2 separate regions of the Homo sapiens genome follow, and region 2 is linked to region 1. The links come from fine-mapping of genetic effects on gene expression. Tissue or cell type: whole blood. Region 1 holds a variant in brackets; the other region holds the start of a gene. All regions are shown on one strand. Distances are between the middles of the regions.

Region 1 (4,000 bases):
GTTCCTCCTAGTGCCATGCTTTCTCCAGTTTCTCAGTCCTTTATCGAAGGGTGGTTAAGAATGAACTCATTTTTAGCTAGACCCATTTCACACATAGCCAATGGTAATAAGAGCTATCATTTCCCAGGTGCTTAACATACAGCTCTTAAGTAGGTAGCATTATACCTTTTTACAGAATAAGAAACCGAGGCCGAGAAGTTACAGTTTGCTCAAGGTCATGCAGCTAGTAGAAGTCACCTCCAAGTCACACATCCCATACTGCCTCATTCATAATGTCTATGCTGTTGTCATCATTGTCTCCAGGTTCAAAAGGACTCTCTGGGTTCAAAAGTGTCCGTTGGTGAATGGAAGACTTAAATCTTAGTTACTTCTGAATAGTTGAGGAGGGTGAGAAGATGTTCTCAGTGGTAGTATATGATTTTTACTGTTTACTCGCAAAATGAAACACTGTTTTAACCTAAGTATATTTTTGAAAAATGACTTTTTTCATTGTTGGCATTCAAATAAAATCTTAAAAGTACCAACGTATACTGCTGCATTTGCCACTCTGTGTGAAGGAGGATGATTTGCCAAGGAGCTTAAGAGTGGCTGCATTTAAATCTTCCACTTACTCCTTAAGTCCAAGGGTATTTGTCCAAATGCATTTTAAACTCTCATTCTAAAATTAAATATATTTCTAAATACTAGCACACATTTTGAAAATGACATTTTAAGAAAAAATAATACCACTTATAATAACAAACCAAGAGTTGGGTAAATGGTACCTGAGACTGTTCTCTTTACTTTGGGGGCGTATTTGAAAATTTCCATGATAAAATATCTTTTAAAAAATTAAGTGGCCAGGCGCGGTGGCTCATGCCTGTAATCCCAGCACTTTGCGAGGCTGAGGCAGGTGGATCACGAGGTCAGGAGATCGAGACCATCCTGGCTAGCACGGTAAAACCCCGTCTCTACTAAAAATACAAAAAAATTAGCCTGGTGTGGTGGCAGGCGCCTGTAGTCCCAGCTACTCAGGAGGCTGAGGCAGGAGAATGGCCTGAACCTGGGAGGCGGAGCTTGCAGTGAGCCAAGATTGCACCACTGCACTCCAGCCTGGGCGACAGAGCAAGACTCTGTCTCAAAAAAAAAAAAAAAAAAAAAAAAAAAATTAAGTTACTAGGAATAACTCTAGCAAAATGTATGGGAGGCCGGGTGCCGTGGCTCATGCCTGTAATCCTAGCACTTTGGGAGGCCGAGGTAGGTGGATCACCTGAGGTCAAGAGTTCCAGACCAGCCTGACCAACATGGTGAAACCCCGTCTCTACTAAAAATACAAAAAAAAAAAAAAAAAATAGCCAGGCATGGTGGCACGCGCCTGTAATCCCAGCTACTCAGGAGGCTGAGGCAGGAGAATCGCTTGAACCCAGGAGGCGGAGGTTGCAGTGAGCCAAGATCAAACCACTTCACTCCAGCCTGGGCAAAAGAGTGAAACTCCATCTCAAAAAAGAAAAGAAAAGAAAATGTATGAGAGAGGACCTTACTAAGCCATGTTTACTAAGATTTAATTTGCATATGGTAAAGTCTACCCCCCTTTTAGGTATGTATGTACTATTCTGTGAATTTGGACAAACAGTCATGTAGCCATCTTCACACTCAACACAGAATGTTTCCAAGGAGTCCTAGGCAGGTGGATTGCTTGAGCTCAGGAGTTGAGAATAGTCTGGGCAACATGGTGAAACCACATCTCTACAAAAACAAAATAAAACAATGTTTCAGTAGAATTTTCAAAGAATAAGTGTTCACTCTTAATTGGGAACATTAAAACTTAAAAAAAAAAAATAGGCTGGGCGCGGTGGCTCACGCCTGTAATCCCCGCACTTTGGGAGGCCAAGGCAGGCGGATCACGAGGTCAGGAGATCGAGACCATCCTGGCTAACACGGTAAGAAACCCCGTCTCTGCTAAAAATACAAAATATTAGCCGGGCATAGTGGCGGACACCTGTAGTCCCAACTACTCGGGAGGCTGAGGCAGGAGAATGGCATGAACCTGGGAGGCAGAGCTTGCAGTGAGCTGAGATTGC[G/A]CCACTGCACTCCAGCCTGGGCGACAGAGCGAGACTCTGCCTCAAAAAATAAATAAATTAATTAAATTAAATTAAAAATAAATAATGTTTGAGTGGAATAGAGACCTTTCATATCAATCACTGTTATTTTCCAAACTGATGTAACCTCAAGGTGGCGCAGTGGCACCAAACTTTTGTTCTACCTGATTTTGTGAACTCAGGCCAGAACTCCAGGATTTATTTGTATTTAAGATAAGAAAGGCTAGTTCAGAGTCCTGTTTACAACAGGCACTTAAAAAAACTTGCTAACTGGTATTACAGGTTGAGCATCCTTTATTCAAAATGCTTAGGAACAGTAGCACTTTGGATTTTGGGGTTTTGCATATGCATAATGAGTTATCTTAAGGCTAGGACTCGGGTTTAAATACGAAATTTGAAATTCATTTGTGTTTCATTACACCTTATACACATAGCCTGAAGGCAATTCTGTACTTTTTTTTTTTTGAAACAAGGTCTCGTTCTGTCACCGAAGTTGGATCGCAGCCTCAAATTCCTGGGCTGAAAGGATTCTACCTCCTCAGCCTCCCAAGTAGCTGGGACTGTAGGCATGTGCCACCACGCCTGGCTAACTTTTTATTTTTTTTAGAGACGGGGTGTTGCTTTCTTGCCCAGGCTGTTATACAGTATTTTAAATAATTTTGTACACGAAACAAAGTTTTCACTGTGACCCTATCACACGAGTGCATCATGTTAGCACTCAGATAGTTTCAGATTTTGGATTTTGGATGTTAGGGATGCTCAATCTATAATCCATTTACGAGAAAGGACGAATATCTACAGGGTTGGGAAGGGGGAGGACACTGAATTGAAAATGTTCTCGTGGGTGGGCGGATCACGAGGTCAGGAGATCAAGACCATCCTGGCTAACATGGTGAAACCCCATCTCTACAAAAATACAAAAAAATTAGCCGGGCATGGTGGCGGGCGCCTGTAGTCCCAGCTACTCAGGAGGCTGAGACAGGAGAATGGCATGAACCTGGGAGGCGGAGCTTGCAGTGAGCCGAGATAGCGCCACTGCACTCCAGCCTGGGTGACAGAGTGAGACTCTGTCTCAAAAAAAAAAAAAAGAAAGAAAAGGAAAAGAGAAAATGTTCTCGTAGAATTTAAAATAACAAATATGTATAGTATCGGACCAACTCCATGGAGATAAGTGATAGTTACCAGATCTGTTGTTCCTCATATACTCCTAGGGCTGGAAAGTTTAACCAATGATTTCATGTGTTCAGGTTACAGATCAGGTCATCCTTTTCCCAGATTATAAGTGAAGAAGGACATTGTTAGGGCCTTCACAAACTTAAAAGATCACAGAATTAATTTTTTTTTAAGGAGTATTTTTTTTGTAACAAAAGAGTGGTGGTAAATTAGCTCTTGCTTTTAAGGATTCACTTAGGTGGGCTTTTTTTTTTTCGACTTTGACTTTTTAAAAAATTTCAATAGCTTTTGGTGTATAAGTGGTTTTTGGTTACATGGATGAATTCTATATTGATGAATTCTGAGGTCCGAGTGCACCCCTCGCCAGAGCAGTGTACACTGTATCCGGTATGTAGTCTTTTATCCCACACCATTCTTTCCCTACTAAGTCCCCAAAGTCCATTATATCACTTGTATCCTCATAGCTTAGTTCCCACTTATAAGTGAGGACATACCGCGTTTGATTTTCCATTCCTGAGTTACTTCACTCAGAGTAGTGGCCCCCAGCTAGTTTTTTGTTGTTTTTTTTTTGTTTTTTTTTTTTTGAGACGGTATTTCCTTCTTGCCGCCTAGGCTGGAGTGCAGTGGCACGATCCCGGCTCACGGCAACCTCCGCCTCTCTGGCTGAAGCAATTCTCCTCCCTCAGCCTCCTCCTAAGTAGCTGGGATTACAGGCATCTGCCACCACACCCGGCTAATTTTTGTATTTT
Region 2 (4,676 bases), 35 kb after region 1:
CCAGCTGTGCCAGGGACCTGGAGCCTGGGACACAGTCAGTTCACTGTCCTGAGGGGCCACCCCAGCACCCTGGAGTAAGGGGGAGAGGAGAGGACTGCAGGCTCACCCTGGCCATCAGAGGAGCATGTGGTGTGACTTTGCTTTAGTACCCCCACCTCTCTGGGCCTAGGTTTCTCCGATGAGACCAGGAGTGAGCCCCCAGGTGACTTCTGTCCTTGTCCACCTGGGAGGCTCAGGCTTACGCTTGTAGAGCCTTAGCTGGGTGGCCATTATGTGCCTGGGGGTTGCACGAAAAGCAGGGCCTGGGGGCAGGGGGGTGGCCTGTGCCCCAGTGCTACAGCACCAGACAGTGCCAGTCCTTGACCCACAAACCTGGGGCAGGGGGCATGGATATGATCTCTCCCAGGTGGGCCTATGAGGATGGGCAGCGAAGGACATTCCAGGCAAGGAGGCTGCGCGAGCGACGTGCAGAGGAGACCACAGATGTGCCGGGAGGCGCCAAGCAGGCCTGCTTTCAGGTGAAGTGTTCCTGCCCCAAACCCCGGTGTTTCCAGGAGGGCAGCACGGACGGTAGCGCCACTGCAGAAGGAACTCTGCCCATCCGGGGAAAGAATCCCCACTCCCCAAAGCCTGGAAGGAGGTGTTGGCCTGGGGACAGCCCTTCACCCCCACCCGCTGGAGCTGATAGTGGGTGGGGAGCAAGGGTGGAGCAAACAGCGAGATCAGAAGCGGGAGGGGAAGGTGAGAATGGAATCCGCAGAGGACACGCCCCCTCTGTCTCCAGGGCACCCAGCGATTAGCAGCAAATTCTGGGCTTTGTGCCCCGCAGCTTCCCACTGGGTAACCGACCGGGAAGTTCTAACTCCCCTCAGCGCACAACACCTCCCCAACACACTCCCTTTTCAACGAGTCTCTCCCCCAAGAAGCAGGCTCCGACGCCACAGATTTAATACTTAAGGCCACCGCTACCCACTCTTCCGCCAGGGCTCTCAGCGCTGGCCGGGAGCTGAGGGTTTATTCGAGCCAAATCCAAGTAGATGAAGAGGCGGTGAACAAGGGCAGGTGCTGGGAGAAAAGTGGGACCAAACAGGGATAAGCGGCCGGCCCTCTCAGCAACTCCCGCCGCCAACCACCCTCCCCCGCCCCCGACATCTAAATCCTGGTGAATAAATTAACCCTCAAGGTAAAAGCAGAGAAGCCAGAGGCCCAACAGGGAAGTGCCGTGCCCGACGCCCACGGTCGGGGCATGGGAGAGCCTGGACTGCACGCCCGCCCGGGCCCTCCCGGGGACAACTGCATGGGAGGAACCCCAGAGCCGCGACCGCGCCTCGGAGAAGGTGCCCCACACCGGCTCGCCCGACCCACCCACCACCCCCCTTCCGCCCCCAACAGCTCACAAAACCGCGTAGGAAGGGGCGGCGTTCCAAGGCGTGACTCGGCGCCAGAGTGGTTCAGTGCCCTCCAAGGCCAGCCGAGTAGGGGGTCGGCTCCGTAGCCCCAACCCCGCTGGATGGCTGCGCGGGACGGGGTGGAGTCAGTCCCGAAATATACGGCCGGGGGAGGGGACCCTGCTCCCAGTGCGCAACGGATGGGGATGGGGGAGGGGAAGGAGATGAGCCCGGGACCTCGGCGCGGGGGGCAGTGGGGCATCCTCCCGGCAGTCCTGGCCTCCGCTCAGCCACGGTGCTGCCCCGGCGCCCCAGACCTCCCGTCCGAGCGTGCCCAGAGAGAATAAAGACACCTGCCCTCGCGGACAGCCCGGGCCTGAAGTCAATTTACGCCCACGAGACCCGCCCGAGGCAAGAGAACTGTGGTCCCCATTCACAGACGCGGCGACCCCCGCCAGCGGGAAGCCGCGAGGCCAGGGCGTGCTGGTGGGCCGACCTCCCTCCCCGGACGCCTCGCCCCGGCCCGGCCCGGCCCGCCGCCTCCTTACCCCCCGCGCATCCAGCCAAGAAGTCCAGCGCCATGGCCGGGTCCCCGGCGAGGCCGCCTTTCCTCCTCGTCCTCCCCCTGAGGCCCCTCGCCGGGCTGGGCGCCGTCGGGGTCCCCGAGCGCGCGGTGCCGGGGCTGGGCCTGGCCGCTCCTCCTGGCGCGGAGCCCGGGCAGGCGCGGTCAGGGATGGTGGGGATGGCGGCAGCAGCTAGACCCGCGCTGGTCCCTCGGCGGCAGCTGACTCGCTGGATCCCCTCCGGCCCGCGGTCCCTCACCTCGGGCCGCGCGCCCCGCCCCTCGTGCCTGCCGGCAGGGCCCGGGTGGGGGCGCCGAGTGAGGCCAATGGGCGGGCACGGCGCGGACAACACCCCGGGCACTGCGCTTCGCCGCCGCGCCTCATTGGCCGGGCGTGCGCGGGAGGCGGGGCGCGGGGGACGTGGTGGGCGCGCGGGCGGGGCGCGGGGACGCCTCAGACAAAGAGCGCGCTGGGTGCGCAGGTCCGGCGGGAGGGGACGCGCGGGGTGGCGGGGTTGAGCCGAGGACTCCCCCACCCGGAGTACGCGGGGTGGCTCTGGTCTGGACCGGGTCGGGAACCGGACCCTGGGTTCGGAGTCCGGCGCCGCCGCAGAACCTCAGCGCCCTAGTCTGTGCCGTGCGGACCCTGCCGCGAAAACGGCCGTGGAGCGCCGGGACGTTCCGAGGCCCGCAGACTGGGACGCCGCTAGTTGCGAAACTCCGCGAGCGGGAATCGCCCGTGGGGAGCCTCTGCCCGTCCCGCCTGCGCGCCCGCGGCGGCGGTGGCCTCCGGGGCTTCCGGACTCCTGGCCGAACCCGCCGGGTTCTGGGGGTCGGACGCGCACGGGCGCTTCCTGCGGAGCCTGAGGCTGGGATTTGGGCGGAGAGCAGGGAACCTTAAAAGGGAAAGGGGCCATGGGCAAAGGGCGCAGCAGGCCTTCGGGCCACAGCTCCTTCCCGAGGACTGCGGGTCGCGGGAGCCGCGGAAGGTTGTGGAGAGAGGGAGGTTCCTGGACTGGGCTGCAGAGTGGAGTCGGGCCAGATCGCAGCGCCTCCGTCAGCGGCGGCCGGACGGGGCGAGACCGGAGGGGCTCGGTAGGGGCCGCGCTCAGGCGCTGAAGTCGGAGGGTGCTTGGCTCTGGGTCACCAGGGTATCCATGGGCTGCGGGGATGAATGAGAGCCGAGTCTGACTCGGCCCCCCAGGAGTCCCTGACATTCGCAGTGGCAAGGGACTGCCCTGGTCCCTGTGGAGCGTCCCATTCGGTGACTTCCCACCAGCCCTTCCCCAGCGCCTCTGGAGGTCCAGACTGTCAGGTTGGAGCCTGGGAGCAGGGACGGGCCAGGCGCTTTCTCTTCGCTGTAGGAGTCAGATCAGCCTTAGGCCGGGCCCAGCTTCCTTCTTTAGGGCCTGCAGGCAGGCAAGGCCACACCGTGTGCCACGTTTCCAGGTTTAGGGTCACATGGTTCTTTTATCCAAATTCCAGTGGGTACCTACCTCCTGGAGGTGCAGGTCGAAAGGTTCTGTGTATTTGGTACTAGGACACACAGGTAGGTGTTGTCAGTAGTGCAGCCTGGTGCTAGGGGCAGGGGTCCCCAGTGCTCATGTTAGTTTCCTTTTAGAGTCTAAGTAGAATGTTAAGCAGAGACCCAAACCCTAGGTCTGCTGACTCCTAGTCCAGGGCTCGTGATGGCTGGTGGGCCCTGAACGAGGGGTCTGGAGGCCTGGGTTTGAATATCGACAGCCTCTCTGACCCACTTGGTTGCCTCAGGGAGGCAGGTGTGCGGATGGGGGAGAGTGGCCCATGGGCCAGAAAAGCAGTGGTATGGGGGCCCCAAGAGAAGCCCAGACCCAAAAGGGCAGGAGCTGGCTGTGGGGCTACTCAGGTGGCTGGAGGCCTCCTGCAGACACAGTGATTACACTGGACTACCTACATGTAGTCACTTACCTTAGGAACAGGATGTCCTTGGGATGCTGGAGGGCTCATGAGGTAAAGCACAAATCCCTGCACATCCATTCCTGGTTGAGGAGGTTTGGGAGGGAAATCCAGTACCTTGACAGCATGTGGCAGTAGTGAGAAAATGATGGAAACGGATAAGGAGACAAGCATGACCTGTTTTGCTTTGTTATTGAGAGAATGCACATGCCTTGAAAATTATGCTTGGGGCAGGTTGCACTGAGCTGTCAGTCCCTGGGGTCCTTGGGAAGGGGCCTAGTAGCCTGGTAAACAGTAGGTATTCCATAGTTGAGCTTCAGAAACCTCCTTGAGGCTGGGTTCAGTGGCTCATGCCTGTAATCCAGGCACTTTGGGAGGCTGAGGCAGGAGGATCGCTTGAAGCCAGGAGTTTGAGGCCAGCCTGGGCAACATAGTGAGGCCCCATCTCTAAAAAAAAAAAAAATCGGCAGGATGTGGTGGCGCATGCCTGCAGGCCTGTAGTCCTAGCTACTCAGGAGGCCGAGGCAGGAGGGTCGCTTGAGCCCAGGAGGTCAAGGCTGCAGTGAGCTATGATCGAACCATTGTGCACCAGCCTGGATGACAGAGCAAGACCCTATTTCAAAAAGAAAAACCTCCTTGCAGGGAGGGTCCTTTGTTGAGAGAGCTGAGGCAGGCCGTGTGAGGGCAGCAGTGGGATCGTGCCAGGCCTGGGAGATGAGGAGTGCGGGCCCTTAGCTGTGCACTTTGCAAGGAGAGGGCAGGGTTCTGGGTGTGTGTGTGTGGTCGGGGGA

The links. PIP is the estimated chance that this variant, and not a neighbour inherited with it, causes the effect.
Region 2: SLC25A29 starts here. The variant in region 1 is fine-mapped to the expression of SLC25A29 in whole blood (INTERVAL, PIP above 0.99).

The regions. Positions count from the first base shown.
Region 1 is chr14:100,269,144-100,273,143 of GRCh38, forward strand. The region is part of intron 2 of YY1 (YY1 transcription factor); the gene reads left to right. Among named protein-coding and RNA genes, the nearest start is that of MIR6764, 6.2 kb to the right of the region's middle. The variant G/A (reference allele first, on the strand shown) is at 2,061.
Region 2 is chr14:100,304,263-100,308,938 of GRCh38, forward strand. It overlaps SLC25A29 (solute carrier family 25 member 29), which reads right to left and starts at 2,182. Exons shown (of 4, transcript NM_001039355.3): 1 at 1,937-2,182. The coding sequence starts at 1,970. It overlaps MIR345 (microRNA 345), which reads left to right and starts at 3,597; the gene lies at 3,597-3,694. RefSeq lists enhancers at 676-755, 806-865, 1,118-1,684, 2,893-2,962, 2,993-3,162 and silencers at 2,013-2,112, 2,173-2,642, 2,733-2,802.